2 linked regions of the Homo sapiens genome follow. The protein of the gene in region 2 interacts with the protein of the main gene of each other region in a pairwise test. Each region holds a gene or a part of one and is shown on either strand. Other genes may lie near its edges.

Region 1 (8,681 bases), on a different chromosome or scaffold from region 2:
ACCACTGCACTCCAGCCTGGGTGACAGAGCGAGACTCTGTCTCAAAAAAAAAAAAAAAAAAGCCATCCATATGGCCATGACTCCTGGCTTTATCCGTCCTGACCTAGCCTAAGCTAGTCGACAATGTCCAGCCATCCATTTCTGGAATTTACTTTATTGTCATTTATCCGCTTGTTTATTTTAGACTTCTCAACGTTAATAATTATCTTACATACTTCCCAACCTATTTATTCCTTGGTCAATCCCTTCTTAGGAAATGGCATCATTCTTCCCAGAGATACCCAAGTTAAAAATCTAGAAGCTGGCTGGGTGCAGTGGCTCATGCCTGTAATCCCAGCACTTTGGTAGGCCGAGGCGGGCAGATCACTGGAGGTCAAGAGTTTGAGACCAGCCTGGAAAACATGGCAAAACCCCATCTCTACTAAAAATACAAAAATTAGCCAGGCGTGGTGGCACACGCCTGTAATCCCAGCTACTTGGAAGGCTGAGACGGGAATCTCTTGAACCTGGGAGGCAGAGGTTGCAGTAAGCCGAGATTGCACCACTGCACTCCAGCCTGGGTGACAGAGCGAGACTGTCTTAAAAAAAATAAAAAATCTAGAAGTCATCTGTGATTCCTCCCTTTCTTTTATTCTTCACCTCCAACCCATAAGTCAGTAATATCTTCAGGACACAGGCTGAACCCATCCACTTCTCACCATCTCTGCTGTGAACCCCTCGGCTGAGCACTCCTCATGCCTCCCTGCCTCTCACAGTGGAAAGACATTCTGGTGAGGGGGATGGTATGTGCAAAGTCCAGAAGAGGCACACCGGGAGCAGGGGTGTCAGCGCAGCAAACATGAAGACAGCATAAGAGTGCAGGGAAATTAGGTTGAGACCAGACCACGAAGAGACTGGAAGCCATGTAGAGAGCCAATACCACAAGAAAAGTGAAGTTTAGGGGCTCAGCATGGCAGCACAGGTCAGATGGAGTGGAGGGGTAGGGAGGGTGTGGAGTGGGGAAGCAGCAAGAGGCTGGATTTGAGGTTCTGAGGTCACGGTGCTGAGGTAGAGGGTGGGGTAGAAATGGAAAAGATGAGCAGACACTAGCAGCATTTAGAGAAAAAGATCATCAGAACGTGGAATATGGAGGAGACAGAAGAAAAAAGAATGAAAAGTGCTTCTTGGAGAAGAATGAGGGCTGAAGGAGAGAGCTGGGACAGTGATTTGCTGGGGGAACTGGGCAGAGTTCTGGGGAAGAGTAGGGGTCTTTCATGGGGTCCCACGCCTGGGTCACAGAGAGAACCAAGACCTTCATGAACTGGCTTCTGTGGTTCTGAGACTGATGGCCGGGAAGGGAGTGGGAGGTCAAAGGTTTTCAAGGGCCCTTTTCCCAGGAGGCCAGTGCTGTGTCGGGGGATGGGGTCTCACCTGCCTGCGCTCCGTCCTGTCCAGGTCGTGGATGAACTGTAAAGTACAGGAAAAGGCTGGTGAGACCTGCCCTGACCCTCTGCCACCTGCCCCTCTCCTCCTGGGTATGGCTCACCCATCACCCACCTTCATAATGGGCTGCGATCGCTCTTCGAGCCCGTGTTTTCCGGCCTTTAGGTGCTGAGGATCAAGGAAAGACAGATGAGCAAAGCGGGCCCTAGTGGGGGTCCCAGAGCAACTCTCCCAGCCCCATTCCCCTCTCAGGAACCCTGGCATCCTTATTCTTGTCCAGACTCCTGGCCTTAGAATCTCAGGCCTCATCTTCCTCAGTAAGTAGAGTGACTATAATTTGTCATCCACACTGGGATACTGCTGAGAGCAAAACGGGAAGCTGCTATTAATCACACCGAGATAACAGGTGGGGGCCAGGACAACTGCATGCCGACTTGGACACGTGGTCATCCGGCCACCCCATCATCCCATTCCTAAGTCTCTTTGCCTACCGGGGCCCAGGCCTCTGACTGCCAGGCCTAGTCTCCATCAGGATCCCAGTAGTTCTTCTAACTCATGGCCACCCTGCCTTCCTGTTTGGGGTAGGGTCTGAAGGAGCACATCCATATGACAGAAGGAGCTTCAGAGGAGGGCGAGAATCCCTAGGTTTGAGTCTTGGCTGGTTAGCTGCATGACTCTGAACTCCTTTCACCCTCCGTGCCTCAGTTTCTCCCTGTGGATAATGGTTTTTGCTCTGCCCGCTTCCTGAGGTTGGGATAGAGGGATGCTCACCACTTCTGCGAGGCCGAACTAGTCGGTTCAGGAAAGGCGCAGGATCCTGGCTTTCTTCTGTCTGGGGATTCAGTTCCTAGGGGAATTAGGGCAGGGTTCAACCACAGACTCCCAGAGATATAAAGTGAGACATACGGGGCCTGTCAGGAGAGCCACCAGCCAGCAATAGACACAGAAGTCAGGGACAGATTAAGCCCCTCAGCCAACTACAGCTGGGGCCCCGGGCAAAGGTGAAGCTGGGAGTCAGGCCCCAGTCCTCACCCTTTCCTCTAGACCAGCTACACTTTCCCACCCACACACACAACCAACGCAGACCCTGCATTCAATTGGCACATTGCACACATGCCCGCACCCAGTCACCACGCACAGAGGATACACACCCTGTACACAACCGCACCCCTCTTCCACGCAGACTCACATATCTTATACAACCACGTCACCCCCAGCCAATAAACACCTCAGACTCAGGTGGCACAACCCCAGCACAAACCCCTCACACAGAGTTGTCACCACGCACACACACCCCTGCAGACACGCACCCATGCACGCACTGTGTTCACACACACCCTGCACACACCTCGAGTACGGCTGGCACAGCTGCACACACCTGCAGCCTCGGCTGTGCACACTTCCCATGCCCCAGCAGCCTGCAGACCGCGCCCACGCCCACTCACCGACGGGTCCTGGTCCTCCTCTGCCACCAGCTCCTCCTGGGCAGGCTCCTGCTGGGAAGGAGGGAGCGTCACCCTGTGCCGCTCCACCTGACATCTCACCCTCCACCCATCCTCCCTTCCCCTTGCCTTCAGCCCACGCGGCCCCCAGCGGCCCCTCTGCAGTCTCAGCTCCTGATGTGCCCAAGAAGGGGTGCGCAGCGGGGCCTCACCTGGGCGGACAGCGATGCCCGGCTCCCCAAACTGACCACGGCCAGCAGGAGGCCGAGGCAGGCCAGCGCCAGGCCCAGGCCCAGCGCGAGCGGGACCAGCAGGGCGGTGCCCGGCTCCCCCCGGCGCCCCCTCCGCCTCTGGCTCCGACGGGCGGCCATGGGGGCGGGGGGCTGTGCCTGCCTCACCGCCCCCCCATCCCGGGACCCGAGGGATCGGGGGAGGGGGAGCCGGCGGGCGGATCGGGCCGGGGAGAGGGAGGGGCAAGGGAAACGGGGCGGGAGGGGGCGCTGGGGACAGGAAGCCGGACGCTGTGTGTGATCAAACTCCGAGCCTCTCGCCGGGCGCTGTGCGCGCAGCGAACGGAGTGGGCGCCCACCCGACCTCTGAGCGCCCAGCCCGGGCGTGCACCACCAGGGCGAGGTCCGTTGCGTGCGGCCGCGGGAGCGACGGGGCTATGCGTGTGCGGGCACCTCCTGCGGGGAGGTGGGGAACTCAGGAAGGCCTGTTGGTTCAGATTCTTCTGTGTCCCTGTGTCTTCAGAGATAAGGACCCTCCTTTCCCCCAGGTGCAGGGAGGGCGCCTCTCGCAGGAGGCTGTTATTTGCTTCTTCAGGAAAAGGGCAGGGAGTTCCAGGTTGTATGACCTGGTTCAGGGAAGAAGGGCAGGAGAAGGTAAGAAAGATCCTTCGGCTTCTGCGGTTTTCTCAAATTCCTTCAGCTTAAAACACTCACTGTGCCGGTAGCACGTTCTGAAGCCCATCATTACCAATGATTGCCAAGCATCTGAGGAGGACCAGCAGCATGCAAAAGAAACACCAAAATTGGTCCGGCAGGTGGCTTACGCCTGTAATCCCAGAAGGCCAAGGCTGGGGGCCAGGAGTTCAAGATCAGCCTGGGCAAGAGCAAGACCCCATCTCTACAGAAAAGTTTTAAAAAATTAGCCCACGCCTGTAGTCCCAGCTACTCAGGAGGCCGAGGTAGGAGGATTGTTTGAGCCCAGGAGTTTGAGGCTGCAGTGAGCTGTGATTGCACCACTACACTCCAGCCTGGGCAACAGACCTTGTCTCAAAAAGAAAGAAAGAAAGGAAGAAAGAAAGAAAGGAGGGAGGGAGGGAGGGAGGGAAGGAGGGAAGGAAGGAAGGAAGGAAGGAAGGAAGGAAGGAAGGAAGGAAGGACCAAAATTGGCTGGGCGCGATGGTTCACGCCTGTAATCGCAGCACTTTGGGAGGCTGAGGCGGGTGGATCACGAGGTCAGGAGATCGAGACCTGCCTGGCCAAGATGGTGAAACCCTGTCTCTAATAAAAATACAAAAAAATTAGCCGGACGTGGTGGCAGGCGCCTGTAGTTCCCAGCTACTCGGGAAGCTGAGGCAGAGAATTGCTTGAACCCAGGAGACAGAGGTTGCAGAGAGCTGAGATCACGCCACCACACTCCAGCCTGGGCAACACAGCAAGACCCTATCTCAAAAAAAAAAAAAAAGAAAGAAAGACCAAAATTAACAAACAAAATTTGACATTGGAGGAAACAGAGATAATTCAGGATACAAAGAGTACTACCTAATATACTTAAAGAGAGTCAAGAAAAAGCATCCATAGAGCTGGGCATGGTGGTGCATGCCTGTAGTCCCAGCTACTCAGGAGGTTGAGATGGGAGGATCACCTGAGCCTGGGAGGTTGAGGCTGCAGTGAGCTGTGATCACACCACTGCATTCCAACACGAGCAACAGAGTAAGACCCTGTCAAAAAAAAAAAAAAAAAAAAGAGTATGCAAAGAAAGAAAAGCAGTTAGAATCTCCAGAAAATTTTCAAAACTGAAATCACAATGTAAATAAGAAACAGCTGGGGCCAGTTGTGGTGGCTCACGCCTGTAATCCCAGCACTTTGGGAGGCCAAGGTCGGTGGATCACAAGGTCAGGAGTTCAAGACTAGCCTGGCCAAGATGGTGAAACCCTGTCTCTACTAAAAAAACAAAAATTAGCTGGGCACGGTGGCGGGCACCTGTAATCTCAGCTACTCGGGAGGCTGAGGCAGAGAATTGCTTGAACCCGGGAGGTGGAGGTTGCAATGAGCCGAGATCGCATGACTGCACTCCAGCCTGGGCGACAGAGCAAGACTCCATCTCAAAAAAAAAAAAAAAAAAAAAAAAAAAAGCAACAAAACAGGCTGGGCATCATGGTGTGCACCTGTAGTCCCAGCTACTGGGGAAACTGAGGCAGGAGGATCGCTTGAGCCCAGGAATTCCAGGTTGCCATGAGCTATGATCTGGGCACTGAACTCCAGCTTGGGCTGCAGAGGAAGACCCTGTCTCAAAAAAAAAAAAAGATAATAAATAAATAATAAAATAAAAATAAATAAATACGGGCAGGGCATCATGGCTCACGCCTGTAACCCTAGAGCTTTGAGAGGTTGAGACGAGAGGATCTCTTGAGGCCAGGAGTTCAAGACCAGCCTGGGCAAAATAGTGAGAACCCCTTTCCATCTCTACAAAAAATACAAGAAAAATTATCCAGGTGCGATGGCATGCTCCTGTAGTCCCAGCTACTGTGGAGGCTAAGTCAGGAGGATCACTTGATCCCAGGAGTTTGAGGTTGCAGTGAGCTATGATCACCCCATTGAACCGAAGCCTCGGCAGCAGAGTGAGACCCTGTCTCTATAAAAAATAAAATAAATAGGCCGGGCACAGTGGCTCATGCCTGTAATCCCAGCACTTTGGGAGGCCAAGGTGGGTGGATCACCTGAGGTCAGGAGTTCGAGACCAGCCTGGCCAACATGTAGTGAAACACCATCTCTACTAAAAAATACAAAAATTAGCTGGGCATGGTGGTGCACGCCTGAAGTTCCAGCTACTTGGGAAGCTGAGGCAGGAGAACTGCTTGAAATAAAATAAATAGGCCGGGCGCAGTGGCTCATGCCTGTAATCCCAGCACTTTGGGAGGCCAAGGCAGGTGGATCACGAGATCAAGAGTTTGAGACCAGCCTGGCCAACATGGTGAAACCCTGTCTCTACTAAAAATACAAAAATTAGCCGGGCATGGTGGCGCACGCCTGTAATCCCAGCTACTCGAGAGGCTGAGGCAGGAGAATCACTTGAACCTGGGAGGCAGAGGTCGCAGTGAGGCGAGATTGTGCCACTGCACTCCAGCCTGGGCGACAGAGTGAGAGTTCATCTCTCAGAAAAATAAAAATAAAAAATAAAATAAAATAAATGAAACACAAGCTATAACACAACATAATTGTATTTAATTGATACAGTATCAATTTAGGGCCTTAGTGCTTGCTTGCCACATTGTCCTTTGAGTGACACATGGATTATGGGATGGAGTGTGTGGAGAAGCAAGTGTAATTCCAGCCCATTGTTTGGCCTGAGGGTAAACAACGTTCATGTGGCCATAATAATGTAAATATCTTTGACTGGATTTCAACTTTTAGAGTCAACCTGTAGAAAAATCCAGAAGACTTAATGGCAGCAAAGACTGCAAATGCCCACAATTTTCACTTTTTTTTTTTTTTTTTTTTTTTTTTTTGAGACGGAGTCTCGCTCTGTCACCCAGGCTGGAGTACAGTGGCACAATCTTGGCTCACTGCAACCTCTCCCTCCCAGGTTCAAGTGATTCTCCTGCCTCAGCCTCCTAAGTAGCTGGGATTACAGGCGTGCACCACCATGCCTGGCTAATTTTTGCATTTTTAGTAGAGACAGGGTTTCACCATGTTGGCCAGGCTGGTCTCAAACTCTTGATCTCGTGATCCACCCGCCCTGGCCTCCCAAAGTGCTGGGATTACAGGCATAAGCCACCGCGCCCGGCCTATTTTTTTTTAAGATGGAGTTTCACTCTCATCACTCAGGCTGGAGCGCAATGGTGTGATCTCAGCCCACTGCAACCTCTGCCTCCCGGGTTCAAGCGATTCTCCTGTCTCAGCCTCCTGAGTAGCTGGGATTACAGGCACCCACCACCATGCCAGGCTAATTTTTGTATTTTTGGAAGAGACGGGGTTTCACCATGTTGGTCAGGCTGGTGTCGAACTCCCAACCTCAGGTGATTCACCCGCCTCAGCTTCCCAAAGTGCTGGGATTACAGGCGTGAGCCACTGCACCCAGCCTCTACTTGATTTTTATTATCAGGTGAATGCAGCATTTTAATTTGTAAAAAGAAAAAAATTGTACAGCAGCAAGCGTGCTGAGGAGAGGGAAAGTCATTACTCATCTCAGCCAGCGTGTGATCACACCTGCTAAAGGAAAAAAACAGGGACTGGAGCCTTGGAGACAGCAGATCATCCTCAGATCCTTTAACTTTGGCTTGAAAAATTAATTCAATACACTTAACCTTTTTGTTCTTGGTTTGCGGCCAAAGTTAAAATTAACTTGCATTTTTTAGGACACTGATAGGAAGTAACTTGGGAAACATGCAGGAAAAATACTGAAAGGAAATCTGCTAATATTTTTTATTCCTGCCTTTTTACACTTTTCTTACTTTTCACATTTTCAACCAAGATACTAAAGGAAAAAAAGGCTTTGTCATTTTCTTTTTTGTTTTTCTTTTTGGATATCCAGCTTGATTAGTATCACTTAAATGCAAGGCCATGCCTGGTGGTCACGCCTGTAATCCCAGCATTTTGGGAGGCTGAAGCGTGCAGATCACTTGAGGTCAGGAGTTTGAGACCAGCCTGGCCAACATGGTGAAACCCCGTCTCTACTAAAAATACAAAAATTATCCGGGTGTGGTGACGCATGTCTGTAATCCCCCTTACTCAGGAGACTGAGGCAGGAGAATAGCTTGAACCCAAGAGGCGGAGGTTGCAGTGAGCCGAGATCCCAGCTACTTGGGAGGCTGAGGCAGGAGAATCGCCTGATCCCAGGAGGCAGAGGTCGCAGTGATCTGAGATCGTGCAATTGCACTTTAGCCTGGGTGACAAGAGTGAAACTCCGTCTCAAAAAAAAATCACTTAAATGCAAATAAAGAATTTCACGTAGTCTGTAAGGGTAGGGACTGTGTATGCTTTGCAGGCATTGTATTTCCAGGGTCAGCAAAAGTTTGTTGAATGAATAAATATGGCCTAGCCTTCCCAGTCTGGCAGTGACTACTGAATATGGTGATAGTAGCAGCCTGAGAGTGGACAGTGACCATCCCAGTTTGCCGGGACTAAGGAGGTTCCCAGGATGAGGTACTTTCAATGCTAAAACCAGGACAGTTCTGGAAAAACCAGGATGAGTTGCTAACAGACCCAAGAGAGGACTAAATGCCACCCCCAAGCCACCACCACACTCACTTTTGGTCAAAATTCTTAAGCTTTATTTAAGCTTTAATCAGTCAATCAAACAACTCAAATCCCTGTCCTGGGCTTCTTTCTCTTTCCACTTCTACCTGCCACCTCCGTCTTCCCTAGATGTATGTCTGTCTGTATTTATCTGTTTGTTTGTTTGTTTAGTTATTTATTTATGTGAGACAGGGTCCTGTTATGTTGCCTAGGCTGGTCTCAAATTCCTGGGATCAAGGGATCCTCCTGTCTCAGCCTCCCAAGTAGCTGGGTTTACAGGCGTGTGCCATCATCCTGGGCTCTTCCCCAGACTTTACCTACCTTCTCTTCACTGATGACCCTCCTGTCCTCT
Region 2 (7,000 bases):
ATATTTTTAAAAAAGTTTTTCAAACTTCTCAAGAAAAAAAGAAAAAATATCCCCACCCCATTTATTATTCTATATACCCAGCAAAGAAAAAAGATTACTTCTAACTTTAAACAACCTTAACAAAGAATTAGAAATAGTCAATAAAAGTATGAAAAAAATTCAAATTCACTCGTAATCAAAGAACTATACTTTAAAACAGTTCTACTCCCTAGCTGCTTGGCAAGCATTCAATAGTACTAATTGGTCTGGTGCTGGCACGGGTGTATGCTGCTTTGGGGAGCAGAAATCGCTGTTGTAGGGAAATAGGGAAATTATATTTGAAAGATTTTTTCCTCCAAGTTCCCTCTTCATTAAGCCACTAGATATGTGTTCACTATAACCGAGTATCTGACATAGCATGTATGCAAATTAATAAAAGAAAATCATGCATCAAAAGCCTTTGAAAAGTTCACAATTCTTTGATGCAGCAATTGCATCTCTAAGAACTTATTTTAAGGAGGTAACTAGATACATAAGCGTATTTATCACCTCCATGGTTATTAAACATCCTAACCAAAAACTACTTAATTACTCGGCCATAAAGAAGCGTTTAAATCAATCAGCCACGTGTTGACTAGCGTGTGGCCCCTGAGCATCACGATACCCATCAATACACGGAAAGTCAGCCACAATATATTATACGTGAAAAGAACAGGTGACAGTATCCTATACATAACAGAATTCCATTTTACATTTTAGATATGTTTATATCTATACACATCCACAATTCCTCCCAAAATGTTAATATTGGTTATTTCCGAGGTAGCATAATCAGGCAAATTTAACTAATTTTCTTCTTATTTACTTGTACTAACTTTTCTAAAATCAACACAAATCATTTGTGAAAAAAATAAAGAGAAAGTGGGAAAATACTAATTTCTAATAGGTTGTTTAGCCATACAAAGTTACATATAATACATTTATACTGCTGATTACTTAAAAAAACAGACTTATTGTTCATATTTATGGTTTTGAGATAGAAAGGAATTTTAAAACTTACCAAGTTTAATTCTCTCTTTTTACAGCTGAGGAAACGGAGGCCCAGAGAGGTAAAGAGACTTTCTTAAGATCAAATAGTAAGTTAGAAATGCCAGACCATGACATTTCCAATCAGTTCTTGTAACTTCTATACATATGTTTATATAAACAAAGGGAAGGAAAAGAATGAACAAAAACTAACAAAACCAATATGCCCCACTGGCATCCAAAGAGAGCTTAAATCTAATTTTAACTAATTCCTCAAATTTCAAGCTTAGCTATTTCTAAAGAATGAGACTAGGTAACACTTGGAAGTCTACGAGCTGGTCCCGCCTTCTCGCCTCACAGCCTGCCACGCTCCAGCTCAGGCTGTTCATCTTGGACAAGAGCACAGAGGCGCGTTAAAGTAAGAGCAGGGCCTACTGACTCCTCCAGTGCACATCTGGGCAGCTGGCAGGGCGTGAACTCGGCTCTGCGGCTAGACTTCAAACCTACTCTTAATTTTTGTCATAGAAAGTCACTACTCCCCAACAAAGGTTTGGTGCAATTAAAAAGGGGAAGGTACAAATTAAAGCAATGACAACTAAAACAGCTACTAGTATTAAGGTTGTATTTCCTGACTCCTTATAAGAAAATCTACAAAAATAAGAAAATCAAAGGAAATGAAATGGGAAGAGGAGGAAATGAGAGTCTCTCTGGGGGACACAGGTATGCAGATGAATGTTAAGAGACTGGAAAGATCTAAGCAATATCCTTTCCTACAAAAATTCGAAATAGCTCACAAACACATTAGAATTAGCTCTGTCACCAGACAGCCTTTGGCTGAACTTACAATAGAAGCCTCCCAAATTCCAATGGTCAAAAATTTAGAAGTTTGTTTTTTAAATTAGATTTTCCCACTTCAAGTAGAAGCAGAATGTATATTTATGATGCTTCCCTGAGATATTAGCAAATATTTCTGATCCATTTAAAAAAGGAAGGATAAGCTACACTGGGCTTTTACTAAAGCTAAACCTGCCTTGGGGTCCGGCAGTGGAGGCCACTTCTTTGGCATGCCTCAATGCTGGAAGCCCTCATGAAGGCGTGGGAAGGGTACCTAACTGAAAGGCCTGGTTCCTTCTCTTCACCTGAATGACCACACAGCCCACAGTGGGGGCAGACAAGTTCAAGAGGCCTACCTGCAAACTGCAGTTCACTCGTGCTCCCACAGAACACAGCACACTGGGTCCCACACCCCTGACCTCCTGCTGTCCCTTTAGACCACTATGCCGTCAGAACTCTGAAACTACAGAGACTCCTAGTTAGACCACTTTTTTCAACATCGTTTTGAACAGCACTAACCTCAGAATCCATTCCTTGCATTTCATTCTTCTCAAGCTGAAACTGCACAAAGTCATCAATGACATGGAAGAGCTCAGGAGAGACAGCTTTGAAGTACTTGTGGTAGTCGTACTTTACAGCCAGCGATGCAAAGATGGTGTTGTTGACCAGGGCAGACCGCAGGTCTGTCAGGACCCCCGGGGAGTGCTGCCGCGGGTCTTCATAAAGGTGCTTGGTTATGAGGTAGTCCAAAATCGCATCTCCCAGGAATTCTAAGCGCTGGTAACAATCTGAGGGGATCCGAAGTGGAACCGTAAGCTTGTGCAGAAGCATTTACACTATCCCCACATAGCAACTGATCCCCAAATCCGAAGAAGATTTGTATTTACAATCATTTTCATACATATATTCTTCAAAAAGGATATCTGACATATCATACTAAAAAGCCTCTGGAAACTAAATTTTAATGACAAATTAAGTACATTTCTTATATAAACTGGGGTCATAAAATCTTCAAGTGGTCAAAAGACTAACGCTTGTTAAGAAGGAAAAACAAAACCTCACAGGTGCTATCATGATCACTGAATGCTTTTCTCTGGCACTGTGCTGTCTGGGCAGGTGCTGGGGCCTTCCTCTCGAGTCTCCCTCACACATCATCACTTAAGTGAAACCAGGGCCGCACACACCTCTCCATGTGGCTACACTGTGCTGCCATCGCTAAAGTCTCATTCACACTCTGGAATCTGTGCATAAGTGATACCATTCCTCACTATTCCTGGGCTATTTTTGTTACACAGGATGACAGGAAAAGAAGACCCTCTTCTTAACTTGAGCTATTATAGAAATGAATTTACCACAAACCAAGAGATTGAGAAAGAAGAGTTGTGAAAGGGAGCAAAGGCAGGTAAACTGGTTGTCAAAATGTGAAAATGATCAATGTTAAATCAACACCTCTATTTTCTCACAGTGATTAAAATAATATATCCAGCTGAGGAAACTGAGGCAGGGACCGATGGTGACTTGTCCCAGAATAAGCAAGGAATTAAGAAGCAGGGACTGCTAGGCGAGAACCCAGGTCTCGGAACTTCCAGCAGAATGTAGTCGAAAGCCACGTATCATTTTTCCTCCATAACGAAAATTAGGCTTTAGTTTCATCAGTCTTTCCAGTCCAGAGTCAGATAGTTTTTCACTTTTTGGTTTTTACATTTTGCTGATCACCTTAACCTACGCTGCTTTTATTATATAAACTACAAACTTTATACTTTGCTTTGGTGTTCTGAATTCAGGCACTTATTTTTCTGATACAGAAATTGAAATGTAAACTTCAGCTGTGTTTCACAGCCTGAAGCTGATTTGGGTGTGAGGGGCTTGTTCTCCCTTCTAATCTAATGGGTTGACAGTCTATTAAAAGAGGGGCAAATACAGAGCACAGTGAGAAGTAGAAGATGACAGCAGAGTCACAGCAAGGGCCACGCAACCTTCTTGTGAAATCATTGCTTTTAATCTTTTAATCTATCCATCTTTAAAAAGACCCTAAAGGAGGGGTCTTTTTGTCCAGGAAGAACAATAAAAGGCTGTGGAAATACATCCAGAATATACAACTAAATCAAAAACCAAAAGCAGCACTGAATGGGCAAGAGAAAGATATTTGCGGAGGATAAAATGGGGAAAACACATCAAAATACTAAGGTTAAAATTTCTCTAATTAGGCAGATATAAAATGACACTGATGAGGGTATATGATAGCCATACTCCCAACAACCAAAGTTATAAAGCAATACGTGCTCCCCAAATAACAAGGAAAAGAATTCTTTCTATTCCTTTTGTTCCCCGCCCCATCCCTTGAATATTAAGCATGAACACTGTACATGCATAGATCACTTTTACAAGGCCAACACGATGAGATCAACACAAAGTCTCATTTTCCCAGAAATGAAGTCTGGTCGTGGGCTCCTTACCAGTGATAGTATTGTAGTGGTAGGAGGCATGTGTAAAAGCCTGGAGAAGGTAAGCCTTATTCTTGAATCTGTAGTTGATTTTCTTTTCAAAATTTTCAAACCCCGATATAAGGTGATTCAGTGTTTTATCTGCATCTGGATGATCAAACATACATCTTGGTGGAATCTTCAAACAACCATATTCCGAGTCTTTCAATACAGAAGAGCGTGAACTGGCCACAGAAGCAGCAGCACAGCTCACTGAAAGGTTCTTTTGTTGGCTGTTGAAATTCTCCCGAGTAGGGCACAGGGCCTTTTCCCGATCAGTCCTTTTAATTACCGGGAGCACCTTCAGCCCCAGTGAACAGAGGAAAAGCTGAGCAGCCCTCTCCCCACAGCTGGTTAAATAGCAGCCCAGCAGGGCTTCCACACAGTCCGCTATGCTTTTGTCAGCAATACACTGCTCAGTGTGCAAGTCGTAAGAAATGGACTGCTTTCCCGTGTCAACACCACAGTTTTCTTCTGATGGATTCCAGAACCCCACCACAAAGTCATCTTCTTCAACAGCTTTGCTAGGATCCAGATAGCACATTGCATCCCAAGAGCTGTAGTCAAAATCCTCAAAATCTGATGAAAATGGCATACTACCTAAGGAGGATTTTTTGGGCATTTTCCATTCATATGCAGAATCAGTGGTTGAAAAAGGAGAAAGAGAGATTTTCTTTACAAAAGCTCCTGACCCCATTAACATATTATCTATAAATCTGATATGTTCCTGATCATACTCCAGGAAATCATCTTCATAGTCAGCCTCTTCCTTCGGAGCCCTCCACATCAGGCTCTCCTCCTCCTCATCCTCCTCCTCGTAATCCTCATCCAGTTTGCCATTCGCCAGCATGCAGTCTTTTGTCTGAAACGAGGGGGAATGGGGAAGGAGGGGAAACATAGCTGCTGTTTTTAAAAGGGTTTGAAACTCAATAAAAGCAAGGGTTATGGATAATTTCAAATGACAACCACAAATACTAAAAGGCAACTTTAAAATCATGGCCATTTGTTTTCAATTAACATAAAATAAGTTATTTAATCATATAAACAAAGTAAAACATGTTCTTTGAATGTTCGTTTTCTAAGTTATAAAATGACCTTTATCCAGTATGAAGCTTTAAGTTAAGGACTTTGAACATGGATATAAAGTTAAAATTAATGTCCACAATGCAAAACTTCAACTAAGTCGTCTAACTCTGGTAGGACACACAATGAAAGCACTCATATGCTGATCACACAGATCTTCAATTTTGCTGACAAAATTTGAAAATGTGGTAATTTGATTTTCAAAAAGATTTTCAAACTAATAAAACGAAATTCCAGATGTAGAAAAGCATTACCTTTGCAATTAAGAATATAATATAAAAACAGATAAAATCATTTTTTAAAATGTACAATAGGATTTTATAATAAAGCTTTTTGTCCCTATTTCCACTTCAAAGTATACTTGCCACAAAAAAACTACACTGCTTTCCTTAAAAAATAAAAGTGATCACTGCACTAAGCTATGAATTTGAGAAGTTACGTTTTTTCCCTCCACTCTGAACTACGGTAATCAGGGGAACAGATTATAGCATAACTGACAAAAATGGAAGAAAATTTAGACTAACATGAAACACAACAATCCAATTTCTGTCAAAAGATCTTTGCTAATTCCAATTTCTTTGGCAAAAGCTTATTTGTGAGTGACAACCTTAATAATGGGCTAGATTTCAGTAATGATGTAACTTCTTTGCAATCCTAGAAAGATGCCAAATTTCTGTTATGCAAGTTTTTAAAAAACCAAAAAACTTGTGAAGGGGGAAGACGAAGGGTGTGCATCAATGTTGATTGTAACAACTTTCCAGTGTTCTGACAAAAAAAAGTTGCAACCTTCAAGCATTTTTTAAATACTACAAATATTTTAAACTAGACTCAAGATATAAACACTACATTTGTCTGAAAAGAAATAGCAGTAAGCCAAGCCATATCTCTAACTATTTATCTTTTCATTTTTTTAATTAAGAAAGAAACACCTTTTCAAGAATAAGGAACACCAAAAGCAACTGTAGCGGCAGACCTCAAGGAACATTTCCTGCTAACAATCTTAGACTTTCCAAGGCAACATGAAGATGTTTTTGATTGGTCCTTAAGAAAAAGAGGGCCAAACTGCGATTTTTAAAAAATCAGACAATATTTTTTTTTTATTGAAAAAAACCTTCTGTATCTTTAGAAAGGTGCCACCATAAGCCAAAAGTGGCAGAGCACAAAAATCACAAAGGGCTGACTTTTATCACAAACTGTGTGATCCTGGGCAAAGCCTTTTAGTGCCTCTGGGTTTCAGATGCTTCATCTACAAAAGAGTGGGGTTCTGTCTCATAAAATGTTTTTCAAGAGCACTTCAAGCCTTTTAAGAAAAAACAGCCACATGAAATCCTTTTCTATATCATTCAAGTCAACTTTGATACTCTCGTCTATTAAGAGGCGTTTTAGCATGCAAAGGTTTCCACTTAAGCCCATTTGCTGAAGGGCCAGAGCAAGGTAGGGAGAATGGCAATGCAACCAGCCAAAACCACAGTGTATCTTTTCAATATAATGCAAGGGCCTATATTTCAATAAAAGTAACTTACTAAATAAAAATCTGAACAGTATTTCTAATGAATTCCAATAACCAAAGTGCCATCAGAAACATTAAGAAAAAT

What was found.
Region 1: the proteins of DICER1 (region 2) and TNFSF12 interact in binary tests that used the Homo sapiens proteins (3 or more experiments, as listed by UniProt).

The regions. Positions count from the first base shown.
Region 1 is NC_000017.11:7,543,708-7,552,388, reverse strand, and holds the start of TNFSF12 (tumor necrosis factor ligand superfamily member 12 proprotein), read right to left. Parts: upstream 3,332-8,681; 5' UTR 3,236-3,331; coding exon 3,077-3,235; intron 2,916-3,076; coding exon 2,868-2,915; intron 2,270-2,867; coding exon 2,194-2,269; intron 1,591-2,193; coding exon 1,537-1,590; intron 1,447-1,536; coding exon 1,411-1,446; intron 1-1,410. Other genes in the region: TNFSF12-TNFSF13 protein, read right to left, coding at 1,411-1,446, 1,537-1,590, 2,194-2,269, 2,868-2,915, 3,077-3,235. UniProt on the Homo sapiens protein: Binds to FN14 and possibly also to TNRFSF12/APO3. Weak inducer of apoptosis in some cell types. Mediates NF-kappa-B activation. Promotes angiogenesis and the proliferation of endothelial cells. Also involved in induction of inflammatory cytokines.
Region 2 is NC_000014.9:95,091,530-95,098,529, forward strand, and holds part of DICER1 (endoribonuclease Dicer), read right to left. Parts: intron 5,185-7,000; coding exon 4,296-5,184; coding exon of another isoform or gene 4,243-4,295; exon of another isoform or gene 3,817-4,242; intron 2,628-3,816; coding exon 2,359-2,627; intron 1,166-2,358; exon of another isoform or gene 1,040-1,165; intron 1-1,039. UniProt on the Homo sapiens protein: Double-stranded RNA (dsRNA) endoribonuclease playing a central role in short dsRNA-mediated post-transcriptional gene silencing.